2 separate regions of the Homo sapiens genome follow, and region 2 is linked to region 1. The links come from fine-mapping of genetic effects on gene expression. A gene starts in region 1. The other region holds a variant in brackets. All regions are shown on one strand. Distances are between the middles of the regions. Region 1 holds the start of LINC02352 (long intergenic non-protein coding RNA 2352). Region 2 has its middle 33 kb from the start of LINC03034.

The links. PIP is the estimated chance that this variant, and not a neighbour inherited with it, causes the effect.
Region 2: its variant is fine-mapped to the expression of LINC02352 in whole blood (INTERVAL, PIP above 0.99).

Annotation. Positions count from the first base shown.
Region 1 is chr15:31,214,539-31,217,038 of GRCh38, reverse strand. It overlaps LINC02352 (long intergenic non-protein coding RNA 2352), which reads right to left and starts at 1,018. Exons shown (of 2, transcript NR_135834.1): 1 at 1,002-1,018. It overlaps LOC124903454 (a long non-coding RNA gene), which reads right to left and starts at 725. Exons shown (of 2, transcript XR_007064556.1): 1 at 1-725.
Region 2 is chr15:31,262,151-31,264,650 of GRCh38, reverse strand. No RefSeq gene overlaps it. Among named protein-coding and RNA genes, the nearest start is that of LINC03034, 33 kb to the right of the region's middle. The variant C/G (reference allele first, on the strand shown) is at 1,053.

The sequences.
Region 1 (2,500 bases):
GTACACACGCACCCATTAACAATGGCTGCCTGGAAGTAGGGGTAAGAAGGAAGTGTGAGTATCCATGTCCCTTTGTGATAGATTTATTTGTGAATTACTGTAACTTCCTACATCAGGCACTGACACTTGTGGACAGGTGGGTAGGTAATAGGTAGTAGCTATACACAGGGGTGAACAAGGACCAAGCAGGCAAAGCCCCTGCCCTGGCACAGGGGACTCTTCCAGGTCTAACTCAGGCAGTGTAAGAACGCCCCAAGGGGCCTGGGATGCCCAGGAGCAGGGAAAGGGACTGAGGACCGGCGCTTCCCAGTGCCAGGCCACGGCACTCAGCATTAGCCACCCTGCTCCTGGAGGTTCTGGGGCCAGATGTCCCCCCAAGTACGCACGGTCATTCAGTGAACAAGTGCTCTCATCTGGAAGCGCACACGCCTCCGGCGGGCTGAACTGTGGAGAGGGTCCAGGCTCCACAGCGAACCGCCTCCCAGCAACCGGGCTCGCCCATCGGAGGCAGAGGTCTGGCAGGAAGGGCTGGGAAGGGCGGGGTCGGTGCGGCCTGACCCCTACACCCCTTAGGCCTGGAGGCGGATGTGCACTTCGCCCATTTCAACATTTCCTCCCCGGCTGGCCTCGGCCCAGGAAAGAGGCAGGGGTGCGGTTTCCCTCCGCCTCTCCCTCAGCCCTTCTCTCCCGCACCCCTCCTCCTCCTCCCACCGCTCCTTCCTCTCCTCCTTTCCCGCACCCCTCCTTTCTTTCTCGCTCATCTCTCTGCCCTCCTTGCCCCCTTCTTCTGCCCCTCCCCCTCCGCCTCCCCCTTCCCCTCCGCCTCCCCCTCCCCCTCCCCGGGTCCTCTCCCTCCCGTTCCCCCGCCTTGCCCTCCTCCTCCTCCTCGCGGCCCCCGCCCCGGAAACCTGGCTCGCCCCGGGAGGCTGAGGTGGGGCGCGCGGGGTGGTTCAGGGGCCCATCCTCTCCGCCTCCCGCGCGCCCCGCCCGACGGCTCGCACCTGCTTGGCGGCGGCCGCTGGATTCTCGGCCTCGGGCTGAGGAGGCAGGAGGGAAAGTGGGTCAGCGCGGGGCCGCGGCAGGGCTGCTGTTGTGCTTGGAAAGGGGCCCGGGGTGCCGGAGGCCTCTCCCAGGCGCGGCGGCAGGAGCGCCCGCGCGTGACACTCCAGGCACAAAGGGGCCGGGCCGCCGCCTGCACTGGGGCTCGGGCGTGCGGGGAGAGGCTGTCGGGCGCCGCACGCATGGACTGTGTTCCCCTTCCCGGCCACGGCTCGGGGCGGCGGGGGCCCGGGGCTCTCCTGTCCCCGAGCGATGTCCCCAAGGCCTAACACCGCGAGCCGGAGCTAGCAGGCGCCCACCACGCCCGCTCTTCGTTCGCCCCACCCGGGCTAGGTCTGGGCGGCTCCCTCCTCCGGACGCTGTCCCCGCCGCCCCGCCCTGCCCCCTGGTGTCAGCCACAGGCCTCAGCAGCCTGGCGTCCTCCTCCTGGGAGCATTTTTCTGACACCTCTGGGGGACCCGGTCCCCTGACCCCTACGCTCATGCGGTCTGCCCAGGTCTTGGGGGGGCGTTGGCTCTGTTTCCGGGAAACCTCCGAGGCTGATACCTGGCAGCAGCCCTGCGGAGGACTGCCCAGCCACTCACCTCCCGACCACCGTGCACCCCAGCAGCTCTGGGACGCCGGGCTCTGTGGGTGGGCTGGGTCGGGCTGCAGACATGGGTCACTGTCCTAGAGCAAGGACTGGCTGCGAGAGCAAGGAGGGGACCAGGCCTTTGAGATGTCAGTCCCCAAGCTCCCCTCTGCTGTCCCCTGCACAGGAGCAGAAGGGCATGGCCTGAGGGTCAGGGTGCCTCAGCTGGCTTCCTGCACTGCCGCACACCTTGTCCTGTGCCCCCCGCCCCCCGCGTGCTAGGACCTCACCGTCCTAACATGCCCAGAACTCTGGCTACTGCTGGAGCTGGGCCTCCTTCCTGGAGAGCCTATCCCCTGGGTCACCTGATGAATGTTTCACCCTGTTCCAGAAGCTTTCCAAATCTCTCGCCAGAATGCCTCTCCAGCCCTTGGCTCCTGTTGCACAATCTGCATCCTTCTGTGCCCACGCCTGGTGCAGGCCTCTTCTCAGGCTCTGGGAGGCTGGCCTCTGTGAACGCTGGGCTGAGCCAGCTTCTGACCCAGGAGGGGCCCAGGGCTGCAACATTCTCACCCTGCTCCAGGTTTGAGAAGGTATTTCCATGGGAAGCTTGTGTCAAATGCGTACCCTTCCTGTGTGTCCTCACGTGTGTGCAGCAGTAACTGCACAAGGCTATAGTCGGCACTGCTGAGCCTGGGGTAGCCCCTGAGCTTGTCTGAACCCAGCTGAGTGGAGCTCGATTGACAGGCAAGTGTTTGGTGTCCCCCTGGCTTGTAGAAGGGCCGATGTTAGCTCCTGAGACCACCATGTGTCTACTGCGAAAGGACAGCTGGACACCTGCAAGCCTCCTACAGATAGGGGAAGGAGGGA
Region 2 (2,500 bases), 48 kb before region 1:
CTCTCCAGGGCTCCTCCTCTGGATCCTAAGCCCATAGCTGAGTTTAGGCCTCAGCCTGCTAAGTGCACGTTTCCTGAAGCCCACCCATAGCAGGAGACACAAGAAGGGGTGAGGGAGGGCTGCCGGGCAGCCTAGGTGCCACTCGGATGGCAGGGGTGTTGGGGCCGGTCCCCTGCCGCCCCCTGGAGCTGGCAGTCCATTTCAGAAGCAGAAACAGGAAGTCCTTCCTGACTGCCAAGCAGGGCAGGGCAGGTGCTCAGTGTGGCCCAGCTGCTCAGAGCAGGCTGGTGAGGCCCTGGCAGCAGGCACAGCAGGGCCCCGACAGCAGGATCCCCAGCCGAAGACACTCTCTGGGCCACAGGACAGGGAGCCGGCCACAGGATCAGCCCACAGTTCGTGGCTGGGAGCTGGGCATGGGAACGAGAAGAAAGACCAGCTCAGGAACCGGCAACCACAGTGGGTTTCGGTTCAACCAGCGTTTGCGGAACCCTGGCTTTGTGCCAGGCAGAACACTCAGCACTGGAAAGGCGCCAAGGGGAAGGTGGCGCAGGCCTGCCCATCTCAGTTTCTGCTCTGAGCAGACGGGTCACCCAGGAAAGGGCCACTGCAGAAACACGTGGAGATCAGACAAGACACAGTGGGGCTGGTCCCCGAAGAAGCAGTCCCCAGATGTTGGCTGGGTGGGGAGGGGAGTGTGGGGTTCGAATCAGCCAGGGAGGGAACAGGGCGAGAGCAGGACAGGCCGGGCCTGGCTAGCATGTGGCTGGCACACAGCTGAGGGCAAGACAGATGGCTGGGAGCAGGCACTGTGCTCAGTGGAACCTTTTCAGGACCCAGGCTGGGGAGAGACAAGCTGAGAGCAGAGGTTCGGGAAGATGGCAGGGTGGCGGCGGCAGCATTGCAGAGGTGGGATTGCCCTGGCTTTCAGGGGGGCATCACATCAGGGCCTTTGAGCTGAGCTGCAGAGTCTAAGTGGCATAGGGAATTTCCCAGCTCAAGTCAAGAGAGCTAGGACATAGTTAAAACCTGGAAAGGACGGGCAGGTAGAAGTC[C/G]AATTCCAGGTTCAGCCTCATTGGGTAAATGACGCATCGAAAACTATGCACGTGCTGTGGGATAAATTTCCAGAGTCTGCATGCTTAGGCCAGATTCTCTAGAGCAAGAGAGGGCCTGCCAAAAGGTCAGTGCATGATTCAGGTCTTTTGCAAGTCACCAATTCTAGCTGACTTTACACTGAAAGAGGAACTTGAGACAAGGAAGCCACGCTGGAGCTCCAGAGAGCCCTGGGGAGGGTGCAGCAGAATCACCTCAAACTCTCTCTGCGTTGGCTTGGAGCTCCTTCCTCTGCAGACAGATGCCCTGTGCTCCCAGACCCTGCCATGGGAAATGACTGTCCCAAATCCCCCCAAGTTTATGTCTCGGTAAAGTGAGCTAGGATCTCCTGGGGCCAGTTCTGCACTCCTGAGGAGGGGGCTTTGGTTGGTCAAGTGCACATCCCTGCGCTAATCCAGCGTAGCTGGGGCAAAGTCACCTCATCCGGATCAGAAAGATCAGACCCCAGGAAAGTGCTGAGAGGCGCTGAAGGTGTGGGGCTCATATACATGCACCCCAGAACCTGATTTACTATGCCCAGAGAAGATGGCATATGGCCGTGTGTTTGCCTTCCAGAATCTCAATGCAGCCTTGTTTGCATGTGATATGTGTGACATGGATGAACAGCAACAGATTTAGGGCCAGATAGGCTTCTTGATTTTTGTCGGATGTCTACAAGCCTGGCCTGTAGTGTGACCCCTTCAGGTGTTCAGCTTGGACAGTAAACAGTCATCAAGGGCTTGCCTGCCACACCAGGCTGTACCCTGAGGGTACAATGTAAAATAAGGTCCCTGTCCATAAAGGATTACCCAGGATCCAGGAGGAACTGGTGATAGGTCACTGTTATGTGCACTAGAAAGAGAGCTTAGATATTAACTTGCCCCTGGTTGTTTTTGCGTGTGTGTATGTGTGTGTGTGTGTGTGTCTGTGTGTGTGTGTATATTGAAGAACTTTTTTCCCCAAGCAAAATCCTACCTGAAACTCTTAACACGCCAGAGACATCCCCAAAGACAGGGGTGACTCCTCCCCTGGAGTAATTCCTGAACAAATCTTTGGAACCAGTTTGAAAGCTAAACGGGTCTTCACACCCCCAATGCTGGGTTTTTCCTCCTCCCCCAGGCTGCCTCGGCCTCCTTCCTCTCCACAGCACACCTCTTCTGAGTCCCAGGGTGAGCCTCTCTGGGATCCACAAAGACCGTGGGTGCCAGGAGGCAGAGTCTGGAAATCAGAAATGCCAGCTTTGGGCCATACATGGAGAGGCTGGGGATGAGCTGGTGAAGATGCCCCGTGGTGCTGACTCAGGGCTCCTGCAGCTCCCACCTCCAGACCCTCCTCTGCCTGGACTCCTGTGGGCTGCCCCTCAGACCACAGCCAGCCCATGATTCCCCACTGGACTGACCCACCTAAGTCC